Linked DNA regions of Homo sapiens. The protein of the gene in region 2 interacts with the protein of the main gene of each other region in a biochemical or structural test. Each region holds a gene or a part of one and is shown on either strand. Other genes may lie near its edges.

The links. The genes of interacting proteins can lie anywhere in the genome.
Region 1: the proteins of RELN (region 2) and VLDLR form a complex in vitro, tested with the Homo sapiens proteins (6 studies listed by BioGRID).

What each region holds. Positions count from the first base shown.
Region 1 is NC_000009.12:2,638,787-2,645,786, reverse strand, and holds part of VLDLR (very low-density lipoprotein receptor isoform a precursor), read right to left. Parts: intron 5,929-7,000; coding exon 5,806-5,928; intron 4,411-5,805; coding exon 4,288-4,410; intron 2,628-4,287; coding exon 2,256-2,627; intron 2,160-2,255; coding exon 2,037-2,159; intron 1,951-2,036; coding exon 1,828-1,950; intron 1,054-1,827; coding exon 934-1,053; intron 831-933; coding exon 705-830; intron 214-704; coding exon 42-213; intron 1-41. UniProt on the Homo sapiens protein: Multifunctional cell surface receptor that binds VLDL and transports it into cells by endocytosis and therefore plays an important role in energy metabolism.
Region 2 is NC_000007.14:103,986,653-103,994,099, forward strand, and holds the start of RELN (reelin isoform a precursor), read right to left. Parts: upstream 3,007-7,447; 5' UTR 2,705-3,006; coding exon 2,479-2,704; intron 1-2,478. UniProt on the Homo sapiens protein: Extracellular matrix serine protease secreted by pioneer neurons that plays a role in layering of neurons in the cerebral cortex and cerebellum by coordinating cell positioning during neurodevelopment.

The DNA of each region.
Region 1 (7,000 bases), on a different chromosome or scaffold from region 2:
ATGACTTATGTCAAGACACCACAAAAGGAACTGAAAGTTACCTGAAGATAGCCTTTTGGCTTAGATCGGCCCAGAATAGTTTCTGGGCAGCAATGTCAGCATCGAGAGCCACAGTGTTTCTTAGCTGTTCAACTAGTTGGATATATTCTTTCCTCTCTAAGCCAATCTTCCTGATGTCTCTTCGATTAGTGAAGATCAGACTTGGCTCTTTGCCTGCAAGATGGAAGTCTGGGTTACTTAGTTTTGCTTTAAGAAGGCAAGGTCTTTCTAAACCACCTCCTCCCAGCAGAGGAGCACTTAGAAAATAAAGGTATTGTGGAATACCTCAGTAGTATCTGTTCTGGAGTTCCTGCCCCTGGGACCTGCAAGTGCTTCCTACAGTTTAGGAAGGCAGTCGTGGGGTTACAGCCTTCAAGAACAGGGTGAGTGATGAATAAGTCACTTGTTTGAGTTGGACTCAAGTTTTGGAAACAGAGCATGCAAACCTGGTAGGTATTCATGGTATCATATGCAAAAGGAATGATCAAGGTACATATCTAGGGGAGAGATCTGCTATTTGACCTATACTGCTGTATTATGAGGTTAGCAGCATTGTTCTCAAGTACAATTTCATGTTTAGTTTGACTATTGTAGTCACTGGCTGTACCTTTTAGAGGCACTTACTCATAAAGGTACAACAGCCATACCAGTCCAAGTTCATTTACCTACTGCCTTGCACACGCCAGTAGCAAGATCCATTTGATAGCCACGACTACATTCACACTTGTAACCGCCTTTTAAGTTGATACAAATTTGACTGCAGATTCCTGGATTTTGGCATTCATCAATATCTGGGAGGGAAATCAGAATTAGTCTTGCTGCTCCTATACCTTACTAGGTACATACTATCCTTTCCCATCACCTGCAGGGTCCAGGTTTTCTTCTTAGACTCACCTCCACAGGTTTTCCTATCTATCAGTTCAAACCCAGCTGCACAGTCACACTCGTAGCCTATAACTAGGTCTTTGCAGATATGAGAACATCCACCATTATTTACCAAGCATTCGTTTATATCTGGAATAAAAATGTAGTAGTCACTTGACAACTTATTTTCAATTAATATCTTTCACATTTAAAACCCAGGCTATTTGTGATAACTTATCTAGTTGGCCTGGTCAAACCCACGATTTGTCTAAGACCTAATCATTTATTTTATAGGTATATATTTCAGGGTGGATTATCTAACTCCTCGGCAAGTTACCAGCTGGTCAAGCATTTAGTCAAGTTTCTCTATTGATGATCAGTTATCTTTAAGGAGGTTAAACTATAAACTAGTTTGGGCCGGGCGCGGTGGCTCATGCCTGTAATCCCAGCACTTTGGAAGGCCGAGGCGGGTGGATCACGAGGTCAGGAGTTCGAGACCAGCCTGGCCAACATGGTGAAACCCTGTCTCTACTAAAAATACAAAAAAAAAAAAAAAAATTAGCCGGGCGTGGTGGTGGGCGCCTATAGTCCCAGCTACTCAGGAGGCTGAGGCAGAAGAACTGCTTGAACCCGGGAGGCAGAGGTTGCAGTGAGCCGAGATTGCATCATTGCACTCCAGCCTGGGCAACAAGAGTGGAACTCCATCTCAAAAAAAAAAAAAAAAAAAAAACAACAAAAACAAAAACTATAAACTAGTTTGTCCTACCTGGGCTTTTAAGTCATAAAGTTTCACTCTGAAGTCTACAATTGAACTTCAGTACATTCAAAAGTTTAACTAGCCATCACGGGGGGTCCACACAGTGTTAGCTATACTGGATTGTGTCAAACTTCCAGGATCTGTACTTGAACAACAAGTACACTTACGACACTCTTTCAGGGGCTCATCACTCCAGTCCCTGCAGTCCTGCTCCTGGTTACATACTTTGCTGATATCTATGCATTCTCCACTTCTGCACTTGAATTTTCCAGGGCCCAAGCACTGATTGACTACAAAGAGAAACAAAGAAGAGAGATTCCATGAGTGGGTCTGGTCAGAGCAATCCATTGCTTAACCAACAAGAAGAAACCCTTACCATTTTTGCAGTTGACTTCATCGGAACCATCGACACAGTCTCGGATACCATTACACTGCCTGCTGCCATGGATGCAGCTGCCATCCTCACATTCAAATTGGTCAGGTCGGCAAGTTCGAGAGGCTACAAAGGGAGGAAACACCATGGAATGAAGCCAGCAAATTGTCCCAGTTGATACAGGGAAGAGAACTGAACATGCCATGCTAGAAAGCTACTTACGACAGTTGACCTCATCACTGCCATCCTTGCAGTCAGGGTCCCCATCACATCGCCACTTCTTATGGATGCACTCGCCAGAGCCGCACTGGATTTCGCTGGCTGGACACTTGGTGTGTATGACTGGCTGACGGCCACACTGCTCCAGGGACTCATCAGATTGGTCGGAGCAGTCTGCATCATCGTCGCATACCCAGCTGATGGGGATGCAGGAGGAGGTGCTGCACTGGAACTCATGGGCGCCACAGGTTGGCGGGGCACAGTCCAGCTCATCACTGCCATCGCTGCAGTCATCCTGGCCATTGCATACAAAGTTCCTGGAGATGCAGCGGCCACTGGAGCAGGTGAACTCGTCGGGACTACATGTTATATTGCCTATTAAGAGAGAGGATGCCCCACTGAAAATGCATCAAGATTGGTCCGTTCAAGATTCTTGTCCCAAAATCTAATACATTGATCTTTATTCATTAATCCTAACTTACTAGCCCAACTTAAAGGCTACAATGGAGTTAAATCAAGAACTTTTGTACAGTCTCATTGTACAAAAAATGAAGGCACACAATAAATAAGAAGAACAGAAATAAAGAACCAAGAAAATAGTTGAAGACTGGAAATTAATTTGAGATGAGAACCACAATTGATTCTAAAAGTGGCCATCATAAATAACAAACTGTAACAAGGGATTTCAATTTGGAAGGCAGAGATTGAGTTGTCCTTGAATCAACATACTGCTTGTCAGATCTTATCACTAGTTGAGAATATCATGCAACGTAATACTCACAACAAGCATTAAGACTTTGTCACCAAAAGAGGTGAACCACATACCACCATATATGGTTCCTCTTTTTGGTCCTTTAAATAAGGATCAGGAATAACAAGTCTTAAACACTTTCCATTTTGAAAAAGTCACTGCCAGGGCTATAATCACCATTTAACAATCAGGTATGCTGACAATGATAAGCTAGTCCTACTAGCCAATTGGTACTTTGACTTAAATTCCTGCCAAATGTTTCAAGGTCACAATTTGGTGGCAATTAGAATAGAGACCACGACTCTCTTGGGAAGCAAAGTCTAGATTTATAAGGGAAACACTTGGCAGCACCAGGGCTTACCAATACAGAAAACCCAATTCTAGGATTGAACACTAAAACTCATTGGACTAGGTGCAGTGGTATTGACCTCAGGAGGCGACTTCTACACACAAGACTGGTGTTTCAACTGTAAGTGCCCTGAGCTCCCTTGACTACTACCATATCAGGAGGCCCATGCTTGTCAGACTTGGGAGCTGTAGGTTTTAGAGGCCCTATAAAAAGGGCAGTAGCTTGAAAGAACATTCAAAGCACTGTTTGTTCAACCTAGTGATTTTCCCAGGCCCTCACCTTCAACATGCAGCATTTTATTAAAGATTTTCCAAGACCAGAAACATGAAAGAATAGGAAGCAGAGTTAGCTTTCAGAGACAGGAACTGCAACAGGAGACAAAGGTATCACCAGTTGGGTAGACTTTTCTTTGGGTATCTGAGGCAAGATGTTAATTCATGCTTCTGTGTCTTTTTTTTTTTTTTTTCTGGGAAAGTTATGCCAGAATCTAGTTCATGGGCAAAGAAATGCTTGTATAATACTCAAATAATTTATTCCAATAACCCAATCAAATTTAGACCTATGAATGTGTTTGCCAACCCTACTCACCTTCTAATTTTATTGTGCCAAAGTGCAAAAGACACATGAATTACTGTCAAAACAAAAGCCCACACAATTGCTGCTTCCCTGAGCTACTTCTATATATAAGTGCCTTGAATGACTTACCTTCTTATTTCTATTTGCCTAAAAGAAACACCAAGCGATGGTCAATTGCCACATGAATGTCTTTTAGGGTTTTAGGGCAGTTATGAAGGACAAGTAATTGAGCAGATAGTGAAGTCACTGAAAAGTGAGTCAATGTCAGTGCGTCTTCAGGCTTAGATTAGTTTCCCCTGCCCACCCTTCCTTTAGGAAAAGGGTCTTTGGGTTACGTCACTCAACACTGATCTTCTTACCACAGTTTTCTTCATCTTCTCCACTGTCACAATCATTTTCACCATCACATCTCCAGGACACTGGGATACACTGAGTAGAATGGGCGCCACAGCTGATTTCATGTATGCGGCATGTTCTCATATCTGTTGATGATATACAGTCTCAAAAGAGCCTCAGAACTGATCAATGCAAAGCTGCTGCTCCTGTGCTGCCTGGAAGCGCTAATACCTGTGACTCAGTAGCCTGGCACACTGGTGAAATTCTACTAACTGGCTGAAGCCCGGGGAGCTCTTTCATCAGCTCCACTCCTTAGAAGCTGTGCCAACCTATGCTACCTGGCAGTGTACGTGACAGCTTTGACCACGTCACTCCTTCAAGGTCCCATGGCGTGCTCAGTTCTGGCTTTTGTTTTACTTGGCGTGGTGAAGTTTATTGGCTGGCCTGCTCCTAGACCACTATTTATCTGTTGGATGTCAAGTGGGCACACCTAGATATTGTCATCTAATCTCAAATACATGAAAAGTCAGATGGTCAAACACCTACAAAATCTTCTATTGCCTAGATTCCTTTATGGGCCTCCTTCACAATGTCCTTTAGATTGACATCTTGCAAAGTAGAAGCATGCCCTAATGCTTGACTTGACCAGGTCATTCTCCACTAAAAGTTGAGGCTGAATCTTTACACAACCTGTCTTTAGCTCACAGGCCTTGAACTCACTTGCCTTGACCAATATTACTCCCCTCACTTCTTATCTAGAAAATTGAAAGTAACAGCCTTATCTTCCTTTCTATTTGATTTTCTTTCATAATCACACTTTAGACCTAAACTGTGTTCATGTTAGTCCTTTTTTAGTGTTTCTACCAGTGCAGGCCTCTACTGACTCAAACTCTAAGACTTTCTTTGCCTTGACATTCGTGTGATCTCAATTTATATGATCCCAAACCATCATTCTTTATGGTCTCATAGACTTTTTCCTAAGGACACAGGTATATACTTGCATACCTATGAAGTTTCTCTTATTTAAGAATATGCTGTAAGATCTCCATTTTAGTAACTTGAGGTTACATGTGTGTCAGGAGTCACTATATCACCCAATTACTAGCTACCTTACCTCTTCAGTAATAGCTTTTTAATAGTATGATAAGCTGTGCTTCTAAAAGCTTTTGCTTGGCCCATAGGGAACCCTCACTTCTTGACTTAGCTTCCAGGACCAGAGTACCATCTGCTCAGTTATTATAAACAGACATTTGAAATCTATGCACCTAGTCAAGGAGTTCTTGATTGAATCTGCTGACTTCAGTTTTAAGTATTCAATAGTGAAGCTACCCAAGAGAATGTCAGTCTTGTTGGACCAGGGAGAACATTCTTTAAAGGAGGCTGATAAACTGGTAATGATTTGACTGCCCTTGGAGTCAATTGACCTAAACTTTAAGGCAGGCAAAGAAAAATGAATACCAAGTAGGAGATTAAGCAATACTTAGAAATGTTAGACACCGAACAACTTGGCAAAGTTCAAGGCCAAAGCAAGTTACACTCACGGCACTGTTCTGGGCTTTCATCTGAACCATCTTCGCAGTCAGGATCTCCATCACACTTCCATCGGCTGGGAACACACTGGCCATTGTTGCACACGAAGTCAGATTCAGCACACGTCTTCTTTACTACAAACGTTTATTTGAAGGGTTAAAGTTGAAGTCATTTACCCACAGCCCTAGCTTCACATGAGGGCTCATACTGCATTTTGGCATGTTTTGCTCTAAAAAAAAGCTGAGTCAATGGGCACTCAACTGCCAATATCCAGGGGAAACTTCAGAAAAATTATTATTTTTTTTCAGAGGAGGAAGATGCTCATTTGAGAGACTTGGAGGAAACTGAAGTCAAGGTCAGACAGAGGTTGCCCATTATCTTACAACTCGGAGATACCTTACATTTAACTTCCTGCCTGTTTTATAATGTTGAGATTAAGTAACACTTTCATTTTCTACATGCATTTCTTCCAAGTCATTCAAGTACTTCATTTAACAGCTAAACATTCCATCTTCTGACTGGATCATAGTAGAACTGCTTGCTGGGGACTGAATGTTTGTCTCCACCCAGAATTCACGTGTGGAAATCCTAACCCCTAACATGATGTTATTAGGAGGTAGGGCCTCTGGGAGGTAATTAAGTCATGAGGGTGGAGCCCCCATGAATGGGATTAGCACCCTCATAAAAAGAAACCAGAGCGCTTACTCTCTCTCTCTTTGTTATCTACTATGTAAGGACACAGTGAGAAGATGGTCATCTGCAAACCAGAAAGACAGCCCTCACCTGATATCAGATCTACTGGCAGGTCTCTTCTCAGCCTCCACAACTATGAGAAATAAATTTCTGTTGTTTCAGCCACCCACTTATGGTATTTTTGTGACAGCAGTCTGAGCTGACTAATATACTGTTCAAGGGGCATCCCCTAACAACACATGTGTTTAGTGTGGAGAATGAAGGCCAAACCCCAGTACTGAATATTGTCACCCATACTGGTCTACAGGGGCAAAGAAACTCATCAGGTAGAAAGGGGAGAAAACTCAATCAGTGTAACAAGAGATGTTGTACTTAGAATTCAAGGGAGAGAAGATTTTAGCCTTTCTAGCCAAGGGGTAGGCTAACATCAACCAGCTAAAAGTCATTGAAGCTGTCAGTGCTAATATCCATAACTGCCTGCTAATGTTAAAATAGCCTAAGGAGAGGAATTGA
Region 2 (7,447 bases):
GTCACAACTATCAGCTCTACACCTAAACATGGTTCATTCAAATGGTGACTTCAATGTAAATCATAAATGTGACTGATTTTTTCTGATATAACTGTTACACTTTAAAGATCCAGAAGGTTAGAAATAAAGTCTCAAGCTAACATTTTACACATTTCTTGTAAGTTTAAGAAGACTTCTTGGGCAAAAGACCTTTCATTTTGGTCACATATCAAAATGGGCCAACCACAAAAGTACATGAGATTAAGTTTTCCTATTGGCAGTTCAATTCTAACAGAAGCTGTGTGTGTGTGTGTGTGTGTGTGTGTGTGTGTGTGTGTGTGTCTGAATTTTTTAAATTAATTTTCAAAAGCCTAAAAGGAAAAGAGACATACATAAGCATCACTTCATTTTTAAACATGTATTCTACCTGTAGAACATTTTACAAAAAAAAAAAAAAAAACTCTTACTTTAAGGCCTATAGCTACAGCTAGTTCCAAAATCTAAATGTTTAATAAAATAGATAACAGAAATTTAAAATCTGACACAATTCTCAAAGCTTATAATAATTTGACCTTTCATAACTTACATAATACAATTTCTCTACCTTTTCTGGTGGTGGAAAAGAGGTGGAAATTGAGATTCTCCTCCGCAATGTCCAACTTGAAGTATTTACACTTTATTTCTACTCTATGTTATCCATTCCTTTTCAGACTTAGATATGTGATTATGGTGAGTCTTAAGGTGACTTGCATTTGCTATTCAAGGGTGCAAGGGAGCAAAACCAAAGGGTGTATGATATTTTGGTGTTTTTAGTTAAGTTTTCAATATCGAGACCTTCCAAAGGATGTGGAAAACAGAAAAAATAATAATAAAGCTTTGTATCATCACATGGTCTTCCATCATAACCTGACAGTCACGCCTTTGAGACCAGCCTCACTCACTTACCCACCGTTCTCACTGAGAGATCATACCGGGCAAGAACTTTTGCTAAGAGTCGCACGGAGCAGCAGGCTGTCAATCAGGCTTTGGGTTAGGTCTGGTTGCCATCACAGTAGCTGCTCCTTCCACTTAAAGATTCTCATTATCTCAGAAAAGCACTAGATTGTTCTTGGGAAGAGGGCGTAGTAAGCACTTTTATCTAAAAAGGGACTAGTTACAGAACATTAATTTTCCAAAATTATTTCTAAAATTCCACCAAATTAAACTTCTGCTTTACAGACAAGGCTGCCACCATGCCACAAGGAAGTTGTAAAAGCACTGTTTAAAACCTCTAGGAGACGTTTATTTAGGCTAAATATTTTATAATAGATATCAAGGTTTTTTTAAAAACAGAAAAATCTTAAGGATTCTTACAATTTTTAAATGCTTGTCTATCTTAAGTGCTAGCACCCCGTAGATTATCTCCCGCCATGCCAATGATTGTTAGCCTATTAGAGATAGAAACTATTAACAGGAGCCTACTGGACAATGGTTTCTATTTGGTTGGGTATAAATATTTTGGGGTTGAAATTCTAATTAAATAGTGCCTGTCGCTGCTTAAAAGCTCTATAGGCATGAAATGTTCAGAAGTCCCAGAAGAAATACAGAAAAGAGACATTTTTTATTTTTCCACATACTCGATGTACTAGCTTAAAATACATGTACTACATAATATTATATTTCTTGGAGCTAAATTTTATTTCTTCTGTAATGTTTATTTTTGATGCAGGGCTGCATAATGATTCCATTTTTAAGATACCTCTAAATTATAAGGGATTCCAGCCTCTACCTGGAAATTAAAGCTGTGCAGATAAAATACAAAGTCATTAATAAACATCACAAAGATAATTCTAACAAGAAGCACCATGTAAAAGTAAGGCAGGAATCAGAAAAATCATCAATTACTGACATATTAAATCACACTTTCAAAAGAATAGGGAGCTGGAAGCAGCCGCTCCCTTTCAGGAGGGCTGTATGACACTGAATGAAATGCCAGGGACTCCTGGCTGGTGAGCAGCGGGAACTTTGCGGTCGAGCGGCGCGGGGCAGCCACAGACCTGGGCGCTTCAATCTGTCACCAGCCTGCCCGCAAAGCCCAGCGACAGCCCCCAACGCCCCCCCGGGGACCCATCTGGGGGGACCGGGAGCAGGACAAAGGTCTGAAATCCAAGTCCTAGGAGTAAAGAAACAAAATGCGCAGGTTCAATTTAAAGTGCCTGCGGTAAGTACGGGGAGTGAGGGGGAAAGACACCGGCCTCCAAGAATTCTCAGGCGTTTAGCACAAGCACCAGCTCATTACCAGGAGATGCGTTCGGGGAGTGGGGACATGGAGAATGAATCCCAACTTGTGACTCCATTCTCCACTAACTTTATTCTCGCTCCCTGGACCAAGCGCATCGCTGGGGCCAGGGTTGTCATGGTTCTTGTTTCCAAGGCCCCTTGGAAGAAGGAAAGGGATGAGAAAGGTGCGCTGGCGGGCGCACCCGGCGGCGGCGAGCGCGGAGGTGCTGCGGTACCTACCATGGTATTCTTGTCCCGGAACGTAGTAGGTGGGGTTGCCCGCAATATGCAGGGAAATGAGCACCTCGCCCTGCTCCCCATCCCCTTCCAGCTCCCCGTGGTGGGTGCACAGGAAAAAGAAGGGCGAAAAGCGGGGGTAATAGCCAGCCGCCGCGCGCGCCCTCAGCGTCGCCCCCAGCAACAGCGCTAGGAGGAAAGTCTGCCGGGCCCAGCCACTGCGCTCCATGCCGCCGCCGCCGCCGCCGCCGCCGCGCGCCCTACGCGCCGCTCGCTCATTCAGTTTTGGAGACGCCGGGACGGAGGAGCCACGCGGAGAGAAGGCGAGAAGAAGGCGGACGGGAGCGGAACGGGCTCGGGAGCGGGCCTGGGAGCGGGCCCCCGCCGAGAAGTTCCGCGGGAGACGGCGGCTCCCAAAGTTACTTTGGGCCGCGGGAGCGCGGGACCGGGGCTGCGGGCGCCGAGAGCGCGTCGTCTGCCGCCTCCGTGCGCCGCCGCCGCCTCTGCGCGACGCCCCTCGGCCAGGCCTGGGAAAGCGCCCGCCCCGCTCCACACCTTCTTAAAGCCCCGGGCGCCGCGTCCCCCCCGCCGCCGCCACACGTGTCCCGGCCGCTCCCCCGCCCCCGCGCGCCGCCCCGCCCGCCCCCCGCCCTCTCGGGCTGGCTCGGCGGCACCTCGCGCGGCGAGGGGCGCACGCGTCCCCGGAGTCCCCGGCCAGCGCCCGGTTCGCACCCGGGAGGACAGGGAGGGGCGCCCGCCGGGGAGCGGGACGGGGACGCTGTCGAGGACCGCTGAGCCCGCGACTCTTCTGCGAGGGACGTCAAAGCCCCGCAGAGGGCACCTCCCGTCCAGCTGTCTGAAGGGGAAGGCCAGCCCCTTTGGCCGTCAGTGTGCCCTGTTTTTCCTGGGAGGATGCGTGAGGGAAGGAGAGGGGCGGCAGGGACGGCCGCTGGCGCCGGTTTCTTTGTCTGAGCCGGCTGCGTCCCGCGCCCCTCGGGGCTCGCAGTCTGCCAGTCCGGGCGGCCCGCACTCGTTCTGGGAATCCGCCCGAGGCCGCGAACCGCTAGGGGCCCTCGCGCTCCCTTCCCACCCAGGCCCCCTGTCCCTCCCGCCGCGGCCGCCCGGCCCCTCGCGGCAGCGACAGAGCCTCATCTGTAGAGGATTTTAAAATGAGATTAAGCGAAAGTGGAATTGGCAGACTCGAGTGGTGCCTGGAAATGGTGATTTGTGCTGCTCGGTTGTGGGGAATTGTAAGGCAGGAAGGGCTGGCGGAGCTAAGATCCGACAGGCTCTCTTCGCCGGACTGTTCTGTTATTCATTGCTTCTGGGCTCTTCAGGCAGAGATGGGTGTTGTAATTTTTTAAATCAGTGTTTATTTCCTTTAAATGTCGGTTATGACCAATGGCCCTGAAATCGGGGGAGGGAAAAACGTTCAGGGGAGATGCTGGCAGCGGTGATTGAAGCGGGTGGTAATGAGCGGCTGCACATGAACTGCAGGGAAGTGAAATAATCCATAAGCACGTTTTTAACCGAGGACGGCTGGCAGGAGCCCTGCGGCATCCGGAGATGGGGGAGCGGGGTTGCCAGGTTTTAATGCCTCTCCCCACCCACCCTTGGCTTGCCACCAAGCCAGATAAACCCGCACGTACAGAAATGAGTAGATTATAAAATTGGAAGGGATAGTGCCTTTGCCTGCATTTGTGGGGCGAGGGGCGGTGAAAATCAGGGTCCAAGGGGAGACCTCTGTAATCACTTCGTTGCAAAAGGAAGAAATTGTTTTTCTTCCTCTTACTGAGACCGAATGACAGGTAGAAAGGGCCCATTTCTAGCTGGCTTCTTGTTTCCCTTACTTCAAAATCCCCAGAGGCTTAACTGCCATATAAATAATATACAGTGTATACATATATGTATGTGCATATATATATATATGATGTGGTAACAATTGCTACACTGTAGCTCTGCGGGGTGCAGGCTGTGGGGCTAGACGTACTTTAGCTTTTTAATCCTAACACCAACTGGAGAGGCAAAAAATATCCCTATTTCACAAGGGAGGAGGCACTCAGAAATGTTGATAACTTGCCCAAAGTCAGTGACAAAGGCTGGATGCAGGGCAGACTGGCTGGCCTCAGAGGCTCTTGTCCTGCACTGCCCTGCCACAGTCGACAGCCCTAGCTGGAGCAGGTGGTGTTGCCCCAAACAGAATTAGGAGATACTCGCCCACAGCTAACAAGGCTGTTACTGCCTTCCTGTCCAGTCATGTGAATATAGCCAAAGACAAAATTAATCACTTGTAGAAAGAATCCAAAACTATTTAATGTTTTTGGCTTACACTTTTAAAATGTTTAGTTACTATGCACTGAGCACCGTCCTAAGTACTATACATACTAACTCCCTTATTCCTCATAACAATACTGTGGGAAAAGTACCATTGATAGCTTCATTTTACTATGATGAAACAGCACAGGGAGGTTAAGTAACTTGTCCAAGGTCACACAGCTAGTGAGTGCTGTGACTTGAACCCAGGCAGTCTGATTTTGACACACTAACCACTGCAAATCGCCTCTAAAGAATGCATGTTGGTGTTGTTAGAGGGATGGGGGAATAATTATTCTTCATCCAGTGTCAGAATACCTCATTTAATCCTTATATTAGCCTGCAAAGTAGGTATAATTATCTTCATTTTTAAAGAGAAGAAAGTTGAGATTCATAGAAGTTAAAGGAGCTTGGGATCAAGTCTGGCCATGCTTGATGCCAAGGTCGCTGCTTAAATAAACTGTCTTTAGTAAGCGCTGACACTTGGTCCAGGACATGATTGGAATTTAATTCATATAAGGTCCTCAATTCCCAGGAAGTCCCCTTCTTTCCATTGTGTAGTGCACTCTCAGAGAAATATTCTTTCTCGTATCTCTCGACATGGCTTTCTTAACATTCAATTTATGTGACCAAGTTTATTTTTCAATCTTCCCCTTTATTGTGCTTCCTTAATTTTTACCACTTTGCTTTGCTATTACATTTGAATAACTTTTATACTGTTAGCCATGAAGCAAGCTCATATTTCTGGCTACAGCCCTGCAGTTGTTCAGTAACAGACACAAAGACTGTTTTTAAATAATGTCCTGAGTGGTGTTGAGCTGGTCAAGAGGGGAGTAAAAGTTGGTACACTCCAGTCTGCAGTCCTTAGAACTAACATGAATACCTTGTAGAGGCTCAAGTTCATATTTGTTTCATCTCTGACACTTTTTTTGATTAGGCCAGTTCAACTAGTCATTAAAAACTTTTAAATAACCTTTAGAAAATCAGAAAAATACATAAATCATATATAAAATCCATTGAACCGAGAGTAGCATCTTCTTAGTGAGCAACTTACTTGAAATCACGCAATAAGGTGGAAACCCAGGTTAGATAGCAAAACTTCCTGTTTCCCAATTCGTGTGCTAACCCTTACACCTCGTTTCTATTTAGTGAGCCATAATAAGTATCTCCAAGAATATTGGGTCTGCAAAATCCAAAAACCTTCCGAACTAATAGAAAAATAGAGAAGTGCTTTTCCAGAAAAAATGGTTTACATCAAAAACATCTGCAAAAAATAAAAGGTGATGTCAGGTGAAAATGAATAGGCTTGTGGGAAAGGGAGTTTAAAATGGAATGAGATTTATTTTTAATTAAAAGAGTTTTGAAATAGTAATTAGTCTACCAAAAGAATTAAACTAAGTATTCTTAGAAGATAAATCCACTTCTTCTTGATAAGTGGAAATTATTGCCCAGTATTTGAATAATCATAACACGATGGGAATTAAATTCATATATATATATATATTTGCTATGTGTGTGTATATATATATATATATATATCTGCTATATCTCTCTATATATACATGTATATATATACATATATCAGATACATAGCTTTTAAATTATTGGGAGGTGATTCATCCATATGAAATACAAAGAAGACATTAAATTATATTTTAAGGTTGCAAGAATTCACTCATCTGCCTTCCATTGATATTTTTTGAGATGAAGCATTAAACATTTTGGTATATGTGGGAAAGTGAGTCACTATTCTTATTTACCATGTAAAAATCAAACAAAGTTTATAAAATCAAAAAATATGTAAATATAAATATGAAGAGGGTGAACAAACTGAAATCAGTTGACTTATTAGACTCTAAAATGGTAATAAAAGGCCACATGAGAGCAAACCCAATAGCAGCTAATAAACTTATAAAATCTATTACTCATAAGACATGGTACTGTATGATAAAATTGAGGCTCCTAAGCAAAAAACAAAAATCAAAAAAAAAAACACACAAAAATAGACCCTAAAGATCAGTAAGCCTTTTGCAAATGAAATTGCACTGAGAAAGGTGGGATATTAGGGAGTTGGCTCTGTTACGTACGTCCTGCCGGAACATGTTACTTATTGCCACCCCAGATTGAAATACCATGATGAGATAAACTATGGGACAACACAAAGTCATTATATTGTAAGATTTCTGAAACAGAATCTGATTCCTCAACACTAAAAATCCCTTTTTTTAAAGTTTCTCCACTTCCTGGGATTTTCCCTGCCCCTGCTTCTCTCTGGAATGCCCTTCCTGTTTCCTGTGGCCTAACCACACATCTTCCACCCTCCTCTCCCTCACCTCACTTCTTACTTGGCTATAGCAACTCATGCTCCAAGTCTTCTCTCACACATTTTTGCATCTGAGAGATCTTTCCTGATCCCTCATCCTAAATTATGTCCTCTAGACCAGCACTATCCGATATAGTGTCCTAGTCCCCAGGTAGCTATTTAAATTCAAATCAAATTAAATTTAAAAATAAGTTCTTCAGTCACATTAACCACATTTCCAGTATCCAATAGCTAAGGGTGGCTAGTAATGGGATAATCTGTAAGGCTGCACTGTCTGTACTGGACAGTAAGTGCAGACTTACAGATTATCCCATTACTGCAGAAAGTCCTATTAGA